Linked DNA regions of Homo sapiens: all the other regions are linked to region 1. Evidence: fine-mapped expression QTL. A gene starts in region 1. Each other region holds a variant in brackets. All regions are shown on one strand. Distances are between the middles of the regions.

Region 1 (4,347 bases):
CCACTATGGGGTTGAAGGGATCATTGGCCAGCTCAAGGCTTACCTTCTCTTGGGCTGAGATGCTGCTGCCAGCTCTAAAACAGCACTCTGTTCTCAAAACCTGGGGGAATGGAGAAGGCGCATACACCTTAGAGACTGCAGATGCAGAGCAGGACAGGCATTTCTGATGACAGTCAATTAATGACTTTACAAATTTAAGTCCATCCTAACAAAAGCCCCTTAAGACCTAATTAGAGGTAATTTTTCTAAGTTTTTGTAAATTATTGAGGACTACAAATCTTAATTAGCTTCTCAGTAGGTTGTAATTTTTTTTTTTTTTTTGAGATGGAGTCTCGCTGTTGCCCAGGCTGGAGTGCAGTGGCACGATTTCGACTCACTACAACCTCCGCCTCCCGGGTTCAAGCGATTCTCCTGGCTCAGCCCCCAAAGTAGCTGGGATTACAAGTACACGCCACCACACCCGGCTAATTTTTGTATTTTTGGTAGAGATGGGGTTTCACCATGTCGGCCAGCCAGGCTGGTCTTGAACTCCTGACCTCAGGTGATCCACCCACCTTAGCCTCCCAAAGTGCTGGGATTACAGGCCACTGTGCCCAGCCTCAGGGGAGTTGTAATCTCCATTTCAGTCATATCAATTTAAACTTCACAAAGCTAAGATTACTTTTCCTTTTCACATCTGAGGAAAACTACATCTCAGCAGACAGGTAATTTGCCCGAGACTAAACAGCCAAGAGGTAAATAGAGTAGCCCCTCTTTCTAGGTAATCCACCCTGGCTCCACTGCCACCGGAAACTAAAATCAGTATCTCTGGGATAGGCTACACTGTTACAAGGTATTAGGTTAACCAAATCCAATTGCCAATATTCGACCTGACAGCTAGGCGTGGTCAGCCACTAGCCTCCCCATAGAGCAAGGCTTACCTCATGGCAGGCTCCTGGCTCCAATACTCAGCTGCCAAACATGATGCTGATTCTTCACGAATTTGCAACCTAGGTGAATATAGCAATTAGGTCACCGTTCAAACAAGTTTACTCCTGGGAACCAGCAAGTGGTGAAGACTTGACTGCAATCAGACAGGAGTAGTCTTCGTCAGTTATCGCTTCTGACGGCACTTCCTATTAGTGATTTCATCAGAGCAGTCAAGCACCTCACAACCCTCCAGTACTGTTCCAACCGCAGATCTAGACCCTACCTGAAACTTAAGCTAACCCTGCTACTGGAGACATTTCTTAACGAAGGAGTTTGTTTCTGCATTATCAGTTTGCTTTAAATGCAGTTCTAGGTTAGGACTGTGGCTGAAGCAGCCATCTCCAGTTTCTATTTAAGTTCCACCCTATGCAATGACATGATAACGTTACCCTAAAGTGTATAAAACACCTAAACGTAGAAAACTGTCAAAACGCCAATTTCCGTGCATTCAAGTGACAAAACTACGTTCCATGTTAAACCCTACACCAGAGAGCCTCTCACCTCGTGGCTACCCCGTCTTCAGCACTCTGCAGTGGGTACGCAATCTTAAAGAGGGAGTAAGGACAGGAATTCAGGGCAGGGCTCTGGCAGTTACGGTCAACTAAGTTGTAGAGGTTTCAGCGACTGCGGTCAGATAGACATTAGACGTCGTCAGTTATCGCTTCTGACGGCACTTCCTATTACAAGTATCATCAGGACAGTCGAATAAGTCTTCCAGTAATACTGTTACAATCTTACCGACGTACACCGCCCTCGGGGTACCCCAAACTGCAAGCCGACCCCAACTTACCCAGTTCTCTCGGGTTTGCACACCCCCACTGTGGGCCGGGGAACCGGGTCCCGGCCTTCGCAGACTCCAGGCTCTGGCAGATGTGGCCCTACCACAAAAGAGTGATCCATGAGCCTCAGCCACGGCAGCCGGATTCGGCCCCGCGCTGCCCTGCCAGGCTGTCCAATACCGGGCCGCAGCGCCCGCCGCGAAAGCCACGCGGGCGCAGGAGCCGGGGAGCCACGCCATCTCAACAGCTGCCCTCCGCCCTCTAGACAGGCTTCCCGGGAACATCTCCCCAGAGACCACAGAAGCTCGAGCTCTTTATTTGCTCTTGCCCCCCAGCTACTACTCCCAGATTCCTAGAGAGCCTACCTCCATAACAACGGGAATGAAAAGGTCACACCTTATGTGCGCCAGGCCCTTAAGGAGTCGGAATATCCCAATCCTCACAAAAGGAGGGGGACGCTGGCAAAGACTCATGGGAACTTTCCGCCAAGTAACGATTTAGACCGGCGCGCTACCCAGGACTCCCCCTCCTGTTGAGTCTATGGTCTCTTCCACAGCCCCGGGAATTCTGGGTCACAACACGCGCGGGGAGTTCCAGGGCGCCTGCGCGAGGGCTGGATCGCGCGTTTGGGCCCCACCTCCGCCACTCCTTAGCTGGGTGGTCTTGGGCCAATTACTCATTCTCTTTAAGCTTCCGATTGGTCCTCTAGTAAACGGAGACACCAGCGCCCCAGAAGATCACGTGAGATGACACACGTGAAAGCCTGTAGAGCTGTGGCACAAGGCAGCCATTCATCCTAGTAGCTCCTCCTGAATCTATTGAGCGTTGCCAAATACTCTCCCCACAGCTATTTCACCACATCCACGGGGCTTCTCAAACCCCTGCGCACTGGTCACCCTCATTACTCCTTTAGCACGACCTTTAGGGAACGAGCTGACGTCTTATCTAGATCCACGTCCATCCTCTGCTCGCCTCTGGGGTAAAGCTCTGCCCACCTCCTTTCCTCTCCTCATTCCTTGGGGCCTCCTCCACCTATGCCCCTGCCTCACCTTCCATGGAAAACTCTCTCTACTGTGGCTTTCCTTTCAGCCTATGAACATGCTCAGCTCTCTCCTTGAAAAAGAATCCATGCAACCACGTTTTGCACACACACGTTATACCAAGGGAAAGAAATTCATTTTGACTGCAAAAAACTGGGAAGACAATCATAAGACCTTTTGAGCTGGCCTCAGAAATAAGTGTAGGGTTTTTGTTGTTGTTGTTGTTGTTGCTCGTTTTTGTGTTTTTTTGAGACGGAATTTCGCTCCTGTTGCCCAGGCTGGACTGCAATGGCGCGATCTCCGCTCACCGCAACCTCTGCCTCCCGGGTTCAAGCGATTCTTCTGCCTCAGCCTCCCGAGTAGCTGGGATTACAGGCATGCGCCACCACGCCCGGCTAATTTTGTATTTTTAGTAGAGACGGGGTTTCTCCATGTTGGTCAGGCTGGTTTCGAACTCCTGAACTCAGGTGATCCGCCCGCCTGGGCCTCCCAGAGTGCTGGGATTACAGGCGCCCGGCAAGTGTAGGGTTTTATTTTATTATTATACTTTAAGTTCTAGGGTACATGTGCACAACGTGCAGGTTTGTTACATATGTATACATGTGCCATGTTGGTATGCTGCACCCATTAACTCATCATTTACATTAGGTATATCTCCTAATGCTATCCCTCCCCCCACCCCCAAGTGTAGGGTTTTAATGGAGGAGGGGGGCTTCCAGCAAGAGCCAGGTCAAGGGATCAAGCACGAGGTCTCTCGGCCTGCATGAATTTGGGGAGAGTGCTAAGGAGGGAGGGGCAACAGAGGTGGAGGGGAGGAGGTGTCTGGAACTGCTTGGGCAAAACCGTGGGGGTCTCGGGATGTCAGCTAGGGCATTCTGTGGGTACTGGGGAGCCTCTCAGGCCTTCAGAGCACAAAGAGGACATGTTTGTCTTATGTCTTAGGAAGGCCCTCTGGCTGCCCTGCAGAGAATGGCTTGGGAGGGGTGGGAATTGAGCAAGAAGCTCGGTAGGAAGAGAAAGCAAGAGAGGTGGCTTTAATGGGTTTTCCCAGGTACCTGCCCAAAAGCAGGGTGGGTGTGGAAAGCAAAGGGTGTCGTGGTGGAGAGAGAGGAGAGGTGGCTGTTTGCCCATGTCCATCACCATATATCTGCCACAACAATGGGCACAGCACCTCAGCCAGCTGCCTGTACCCAGGAAGAGGACAGTCCCCAGACTTGGGGATGTGGGGGTGAGGGTGGGGACACAGCAACTGAGGGTCTCTGTGCCCAGGCAAGGGCAGGAGCAACCTAGTCCCATACACAGACCTGTGCACACAGAGACATGCAGACATTGCCAGCTCTAAGGGTCCCAGCAACTCTGCCCAAATAATGTTTCCAGAAGAGTTAGTTAGTGAAAATATATATTTGCCACCAGAATTCACTGGGACCCCAGAGCCAGCAGATGTGGTTGGAAAGATCCTCTGCTCTGTCCTCTGGCCTCCTGCTGCATCTGGGCCATCAGTTGGACTGGAGGAGCTGGACGGGCACATAGTTTTCCTCAGAGGCACCATCCTCATCCTC
Region 2 (4,000 bases), 40 kb after region 1:
GTCGGGCTGGGGGACAGTCAGGTCTTTCTCATCCCATGAGGCCATATTTCAGACTATCACATGGGGAGAAATCTTGGACAATACCCAGCTTTCCAGGGCAGAGGTCCCTGCGGCTTTTCGCAGTGCATAGTGCCCCTGGTTTATTGAGACTAGAGAATGGTGATGACTTTTACCAAGCATACTGCTTGTAAATATTTTGTTAACAAGGCACCTCCTGCACAGCCCTAGATCCCTTAAACCTTCATTCCATACAACACATGTTTTTGTGAGCTCAAAGTTGGGGCAAAGTGGCTGGGGCAAAGTGGCTGGGGCAAAGTTACAAATTAACAACATTTCAGCAAAGCAATTGTTCAAGGTACGCTTTGGGAGGCTGAGGTGGGCGGATCACGAGGTCAGGAGATCGAGACCATCCTGGTTAAAATGGTGAAACCCCTTCTCTACGAAAAATACAAAAAATTAGGTGGGCGTGGTGGTGGGCGCCTGTAGTCCCAGCTACTGGGGAGGCTGAGGCAGGAGAATGGCGTGAACCCGGGAGGCAGAGCTTGCAGTGAGCTGAGATCGCGCCTCTGCACTCCAGCCTGGGCGACAGAGCAAGACTCCGTCTCAAAAAAAAAAAATGTACAGGTCAAAATGGAACTTCTTATGTCTTCCCTTTCTACATAGACGCAGTAACAGTCTGATCTCTCTTTTCCCTACACCAAAGTGCTGGGATTACAGGTGTGAGCCACTGTGCTCGGCCCTTTTTTTTTTGAGTGGGAGTTTTGCTCTTGTTGCCCAGGCTGGAGTGCAATGGTGTGATCTCAGCTCACCGCAACCTCCGCCTCCTGGGTTCAAGTGATTCTCCTGCCTCTGCCTCCTGAGTAGCTGGGACTACAGGCGTTCACCACTACCCCTGGCTAATTTTTTTTTTTGAAACAGAGTCTTGCTCTGTTACCCAGGTTGGAGTGCAGTGGCGCGATCTCAGCTCACTGCAACCTCCGCCTCCCGGGCTCAAGCAATTCTCCTGCCTCAGCCTCCTGAGTAGCTGGGATTACAGGCACGTGCCACCACGCCCGGCTAATTTTTGTATTTTTAGTAGAGATGGGGTTTCACCATGTTGGTCAGGCTGGTCTCGAACTCCCGACCTCAGGTGATCCACCCGCCTTGGCATCCCAAAGCGCTGGGATTACAGGCTTGAGCCGCTGTGCCCAGCCTCAACTTTTATATTTTCAACTTAGTATTTCTTGTTGGTTCTTTTTGGTGTTTTTGTATTCATTTGTTTCATAGTTCTAGTATTTTCCTTTATATCTTTTAATGTGTTTATTAGGCTAATTAAAAATTCTTATTCTGAAGAATTTCAGTTTATGGTTCTTTCTTTTCAAAGTGGTGATGCTTGTTATTGTGGCCTGGAAATTTATTTCCCTTAATGGGTATATTCTGTTTGGCCAGGCAGGCCCCAGTGAGCTCAGGGCATGGGGGTAGATGAGCCTCAGGGAGGCTCTGAGAAAAGACAGCCAATCATGCCTCACCCCATGAGACAACTCCTTGGGTCAATTTTCACACATTGCTCTCTAGAGAGAAGCAGCATTACGAGGACTCATCCCCAAAATGTTACTCCCCAGCCTGGGTGTTTGGAAGAGGGTGGATGAGTAGGCAACTGCTAGAAGCCAGTTAGTCCC[C/G]TTCTGTTTTTCTCAGCATTTCACAAACACAGGATGTCTGGGCAGCCCTGATTTGACTGCAGGTATGCCCAGAGCAGAGATCTGAGTCATTGCAGATGTGGAGGCAGATACCATCTGTTCCAAGGCGATGGCGCAGAACCTCCATGGCTCTGTTTTTATCTTCCGATTTCAAAACAGCACACCCCTTCCCATCACCCCAAGAGCTTTTTCACACCTTTTCCTGCAGGAAAGGCCGGCAGAATGCCAATGCAGCACCTTGCTTGACTCTGGCCTGGCTCTGTATCACGACATATCCCCAGCATCTGTTTATTTATCTGTCTCCACTCTATTCCCAGCGTCTGTTTACTTATCTGTCTCCACTCCATGACTGAGCATATTTGGAGCACTTTGCTCAGGGTAGGAAAGATCAATTTTATTCCTACAAATATCAGGCTTTTCGGTTTAGGTTGAGAACAACATGTTTATTTACTCAGCAGGCATTTTAGACCTGAACTGTAACAGGACACTGGTTCCCCACACAAAGCTGTCAGGCCCCACCTTTCCAGAAAAGAAGAGGTGGTATTGGCCTGTTTCTAGGTGCACCCAAGCCATGACCTGCAGGAAAAAGTCCACGTCTCTCCCTCCCCACAACCCACATTCTGTAGTCCAGGGTCACCCGAGAGAGCCTGTACAGTGTTATATTTACTTTGTGGTATGTCTTAAGGCACGGGCCCCTTATTTTATTATAAATTTCCATGTCATCTGTTTCAGGCCCTGCTCACCTGAGCCCAGTGGACTGTTGACAAAAAAGTATTTGAGGAGATTTATTCTGAGCCAAATATGAGTGATCAATGGCCTGTGACACAGCCCTCAGGAGATCCTGAGAACATGTGCCCAAGGTGCTCAGACACAGCCTAGTTTTATACATTTTAGGGAGACATGAGACATCAGTCAAATACATATAGGACTTACGTTGGTTCCATATGGAAGGGCAGGACAACTCGAAGTGCGTGTGAGGAGTGTATCCAGGTCACAGGCAGATTTTAAAGTTTTTCTGATTGGCAATTAGTTGAAAGAGTTGGCCAGGTGCCATGGCTCACGCTTATAATCCCAGCACTTTGGGAGGCCGAGGCGGGTGGATCACCTGAGGTCAGGAGTTCGAGGCCAGCTTGGCCAACATGGAGAAACCCTGTCTCTACTAAAAATACAAAATCAGCCGGGTGTGGTGGCGCATGCCTGTAATCCCAGCTACTCAGGAGGCTGAGGCAGGAGAATCGCTTGAACCTGGGAGGCAGAGGTTGTGGTGAGCCGAGATCATACCATTGCACTCCAGCCTGGGCAACAAGAGTGAAACTCTGTCTCACAAAAAAGAAAATTAGCCGGGTGTGGTGGCACATGCCTGTAATCCCAGTTACTCAGGAGGCTGAGGCGGGAGAATCGCTTGAACCCGGGAGGAAGAGGTTGCAGTGAGCCAAGATGGTGCTGCTGCACTCCAGTCTGGGCGACAGAGCGAGACTCTATCTAGGAAAAAAAAAAAAAAGAAGAAAGACTTATTATCAGTAGAAAGAAATGCCTGGGTTTTGATAAGGGGTTGTAGAGACCAAGGTTTTATCAGGCAGATGAAGCTTCCAGGTAGCAAACTTCAGAGAAAATAGATTGTAAATGTTTCTTACCAGACTTAAGATCTGTGTTGATGTTAATGCTGGTTGGCTTTTCCTGAATTCCAAAAGGGAGGAAGTTATAATGATGCTTGTGTGACCTGCTCTTCCGTCATGTCCTGAACTAGATTTTCAGATTTACTTGGGAATGTCCTTAGCCAAGAAGAGGGGCCCATTCAGATGGTTGTGGAGGGGCCTTAGAATTTTACCTGTGGTTTACAGGACAGAGCTTGGGACCTCACTGTAGTGCTCTGGCCTGAAATGCAAGTGGAGAGGACAGAGCTAACAATGAAACGAGTGAATTATTTTAAGTGCATGAAGTCAGTCTGCAGAGGAGCAGGCACTTAGAGTGAATCAGCACATTGCGGGAAGCTTTTGAGCAGCCCCAACCTGAGCTCTTGTAGTTTTGTGAAAGGAGAAGAGACAGCAGAAGCATCAGCAGCACAGGCAATGGCCAAGGCCCAGAGCAGCAGACAGGCTGCCATCTACACATCTCCAGGCTCTTCTAGCACCCACTTCTTCAGCTTCTCCCTGCTTGTGTTTGGAGGGTCCCTCTTTTTCTTTTTTCTTTTTTCCTTGTTTTTGGAGAACGGGGTCTCGCTATATTGCCCAGGCAGGTTGGAAGTCCCTGTTTTTCTAAGCTCCCCTGGCCATGTGCTTGAGTGGCTCAGCACCTTCTCCCTTCTCAAGGTCCTGGCTGGTGTG
Region 3 (4,306 bases), 46 kb after region 1:
GACGGGGTTTCAACATGTTGGTCAGGCTGGTCTCGAACTCCTGACCTCAGGTGATCCACCCGCCTCGGTCTCCCAAAGTGCTGGGATGACAGGCACTTCGCCCAGCTGCAGTTGAGATTTTCATAGCTACTTACCCAACTGCCTTCCAAAGAGGTTGTACCAGTTTACACCGACCAACAATACATGAGGATGCATTTCTCTGCACTCTTGTAAACAAAAGTATTAACAGTCTTGTTTTATCTTTGTCAATCTGAAATATTAAAAAATGCCACTTCATACATTGAATGGTCATTTTTCTTATGCTAAGTGAAGCTGCACATCTTGTCATGTGTTTAAGAACAATTTTTGGCCAGGCGCGGTGGCTCACACCTGTAATCCCAGCACTTTGGGATGCCGAGGCGGGCGGATCACGAGGTCGGCGGATCATGAGGTCAGGTGATCGCGACCATCCTGGCTAACATGGTGAAACCCCATCTCTACTAAAAATACAAAAAACAAAATTAGCCTGGCGTGGTGGCGGGTGCCTGTAGTCCCAGCTACTCGGGAGGCTGAGGCAGGAGAGTGGCGTGAACCCAGGAGGCAGAGCTTGCAGTGAGCCGAGATAGTGCCACCGCTGCACTCCAGCCTGGGCGACAGAGTGAGACTCCGTCTCAAAAAAAAAAAACAACAATTTTCTTTTCTGTGAATTGTCTGCTCCTGTCCTTTGTCCATTTTCCTATTGTGTTATTAATCTGTTTCTCATATATTTATAGAAACCACTTATATATTGAAGAAATTAGTCCTTTCGGTGGGTGCAGTGGCCCATGCCTGTAATCCCAGCACTTTCAGAGGCTGAGGCAGAAGGATCATTTGAGGTCAGCAGTTCAAGACCAGTCTGAGAAACATAGCAAGAACCTGTCTCTACAAAGAGTTTTTTAAATTAGCCAGGTGTAGTATGTGCCCCTGTAGTCCCAGCTACTTGGGAAGCTGAGGTGGATCACTTGTGCCTGGGACATGGAGACTGCAATGAGCTGTGATCGTATCACAGCACTCCAGTCTGGGTGACAGAGTAAGATCCTGTCTCAAAAGAAAAGAAAAAAAAGAAAGAAATTAGTCCTTTAACGTCAGGCACAGTGTCTCATGCTTGTAATCCCAGCACTTTGGGAGGCTGAGGTGGGCGGATCACTTGAGGTCAGGAGTTTGAGACCAGCCTGGCCAACATGGTGAAACCCTGTCTCTACTAAAAATACAAAAAATTAGCTGGGTATGGTGGCACACGCCTGTGTTGTAAATATTTCTTCCTCGTTTTTAATTTACAAAATATGTCAAGAGACTGGGCACAGTGGCTTATGCCTCTAAATCCCAATGCTTTAGGAGGCTGAGGTAGGAGGACCACTTGAGGCCACGAGTTTGAGACCATCCTGGGTCATATGGTAAGACCCCACCTCTACAAAAAAATAAAAATCAAAATAAATTAGCCAGGCAAGGTGGCATGTGCCTGTGGTCCCAGCTACTCAGGAGGCTGAGGTGGGAAGATCACTTGACACTGGAATTTGAGGATACAGTTAGCTATGATTGCACCACTGCACACAAGCCTGGGCAGCAGAGTGGGAGCCTATCTCTAAATACACACACACACACACACACACACACACACACACACATACACATATAAATATATATGAAGGGATGCATTTACACCATAGAGTTGTTTACAAATGCCCCATTAGTATGAGTTAAATAAATTATGATATATACAACAGAAAGCTATGCAGCTATTTAAATGAAGATATATATTTATTAGCATAAAACAATGTAAGTAGAAAAATTAAGTTTAAAAAAGCAGGATAAAAAATAGAAAGCATTATATGATAACCCATTTTTTAAAAATCTGTGCTATCAATAGTTACCTCCAGATGATGGGAATTTGGTAATTTATTTAGGTAATTTTACTCTCTTCTTTTTACCGTTCCAGATTATCTGAAAAAAAATTTTTTTTTTTTGAGACAGAGATTTGCTCTTGTTGTCCAGGCTGGAGTGCAATGGCGTGATCTCGGCTCACCACAACCTCCGCCTCCTGGGTTCAAGCAATTCTCCTGCCTCAGCCTCCCTAGTAACTGGGATTACAGGCTCCCGCCCACCATGCCCAGCTAATTTTTTTTTTTTT[TTTTTTG/G]AGACAGAGTTTTGCTCTTGTCACCTAGGCTGGAGTGCCTTGATGCGATCTCGGTTCACCGCAACCTCTGCCTCCTGGGTTCAAGCGATTCTCCTGCCTCAGCCTCCCAATTAGCTGGGATTACAGGCATGGGCCACCATGCCTGGCAAATTTTGTATTTTCAGTAGAGACGGGGTTTCTCCATGTTGGTCAGGCTGGTCTCGAACTCCCAACCTCAGGTGATCCGCCTGCCTAGGCCTCCCAAAGTGCTGGAATTACAGGTGTCAGCCACCGCGCCCGGCCCACGCCCAGCTAATTCTTTGCATTTTTAGTAGAGACAGGGTTTCACTATGTTGGCCAGGCTGGTCTTGAATTCCTGACCTCAGGCGATCTGCCCGCCTCAGCCTCCCAAAGGGCTGGGATTACAGGCGTGAGCCACCGCCCCTGGCGTCATGCTATTTTTAAATGTGTTATAAACGTATGAAGCATGGGGGTATCACATGGGGTATTAGGAAACAATTATAATAGTGCTCAGTATGCTTGGCAAAGTATAGCCACATGATATAAAAGGCGTTTGTCAAAGCTACTATTGACACTGGAGTTAAGATAGGCATTAATCAGTAGATTTTTCTTTTTTTTTTTTTGAGATGGAGTCTTGCTCTTATCGCCTAGGCTGAAGTACAATGGCACGATCTCGGCTCACTGCAACCTCTGCCTCCCAGGTTCAAGTGGTTCTCCTGCCTCAGCCTCCTGAATAGCTGGGATTACAGGCACCTGCCACCACGTCTGGCTAATTTTTTTTTTGTATTTTTAGTAGAGATGGGGTTTTGCTATGTTGGCCAGTCTGGTCTCCAACTCCTGACCTTGTGATCCTCCCGCCTTGGCCTCCCAAAGTGCTGGGATTACAGGCGTGAGCCACCGTGCCTGGCCTCAATCAGTAGATTTCAATGGCTCCAGAGTCTCTCTGTCACTGGTTTGTTGATCCCTGGAAGGAATAAATGCTATTATGGTCTAGGGGTTGTGGGATGGCAGGTTTCCTCTTCCTGAAACATCTTTACCCTAAGAAGGTCATTAATTTGATTTCCCCACCCCAGCCCCTGCCCCGCTTTTGTCCCTGCAAATTTGGTCCAGGCTTGGGAGAGGGCTCCAGGGTGTTAAAAAGCTGCCTAGTGGCTGGAGGGGGAGGCTCAGGCAGGCAGAAACCCTGATCGTTTGAGAGGAGCCTCTCAGAGGTCGCTGGGCTCGCTAGGCTCCCAGTCGTGCTTGAGGGTGGCAAGACTTTGGAAAAGACAGTTGCTTGACCCAGCTCCGGGCGGCCAGCCCGCAGAGGTCAGGCGATCATCCACTCTCTTGACGAGTTTCACTCCCACATCTAGGAAAGGCCTCTCTAGGAAGTCCCAGAGATGAGGTCTGTGCCAGCAGAACCCAGGGCGTGAAGACCCAGAATAGGCTGGTTCAGGCTCCTCTCCAGGGCCAAGGCTGCCCCCGCGGCATCCAGGGTTTTATCCCACTCATCTCATCTGCAGGTCCTGCAGAAGAGCGGGCTGCCATGCTGGCTTTGCATCTTCCAGAGACGCTTGGCCAGTTCACCTTCCAGAGCCACATCGTCACGGCTGAAGTAGAAGCCCAGAGAGATGCCAGTTGACCAGGCAGTTAGTGGTTGCCTCCGCCTGGGTGGAATGATTCTGACACATCTGGGAGCTCATGCTTGGGGACAAGAAGCAGATAACCACAAAAACGGTGTTGGCTGGGCCCAGAAGCAGGAGGTTGCCAAGAAGATGGTCTTGGAGGCTCAAGTGGAAAGGAGATGGGAGGCGATCAGAGGCTGGAAGAGGGAGCCCCCTGGTCTGTTCGTTCCAAACACTGTTGAAGCAAAAGACAGAGCCAGAACCCAACATGCTAACTTCAGGCAACGCGCTGTAGATTTCGAATGTGTGTTATGCATAGTTTTTTTTTTAATGTGTGTTATTAATAGTTATCAACAAGCCTTATACCTTCATTTATTCCTTTGGCCCAGAAGCCATAAAGAAAAAGATTGTCAGATGATGATGATGATGATTGAGACAGGGTCTTGCTCTGTCTCCCAGGCTGGAGAGCAGTGGGGAGATCACAGCTCACTGCAGCCTCGGCCCCCTGGGCTCAAGTGATCCTCCCACCTCAGTCTCCCGAATAGCT

What was found. PIP is the estimated chance that this variant, and not a neighbour inherited with it, causes the effect.
Region 2: its variant is the best candidate, but not a certain one, in a credible set for the expression of SNHG29 in sun-exposed skin (GTEx, PIP 0.71).
Region 3: its variant is the best candidate, but not a certain one, in a credible set for the expression of SNHG29 in whole blood (INTERVAL, PIP 0.61).

What each region holds. Positions count from the first base shown.
Region 1 is chr17:16,436,827-16,441,173 of GRCh38, reverse strand. SNHG29 (small nucleolar RNA host gene 29) reads right to left here and starts at 2,187. Exons shown (of 4, transcript NR_045025.1): 1 at 2,114-2,187; 2 at 921-989; 3 at 44-100. SNORD49B (small nucleolar RNA, C/D box 49B) reads right to left here and starts at 1,665; the gene lies at 1,618-1,665. It overlaps SNORD49A (small nucleolar RNA, C/D box 49A), which reads right to left and starts at 1,138; the gene lies at 1,068-1,138. TRPV2 (transient receptor potential cation channel subfamily V member 2) reads right to left here. Exons shown (of 15, transcript NM_016113.5): 15 at 4,171-4,347. The coding sequence ends at 4,285. RefSeq lists enhancers at 982-1,883, 2,189-2,518, 2,579-2,768, 1,884-2,783, 2,784-3,685 and 1 more.
Region 2 is chr17:16,396,546-16,400,545 of GRCh38, reverse strand. No RefSeq gene overlaps it. Among named protein-coding and RNA genes, the nearest start is that of TRPV2, 17 kb to the left of the region's middle. RefSeq lists a cis regulatory region at 1,335-2,398. The variant C/G (reference allele first, on the strand shown) is at 1,659.
Region 3 is chr17:16,390,965-16,395,270 of GRCh38, reverse strand. It overlaps the pseudogene FTLP12. Among named protein-coding and RNA genes, the nearest start is that of UBB, 12 kb to the right of the region's middle. The variant TTTTTTG/G (reference allele first, on the strand shown) is at 2,147.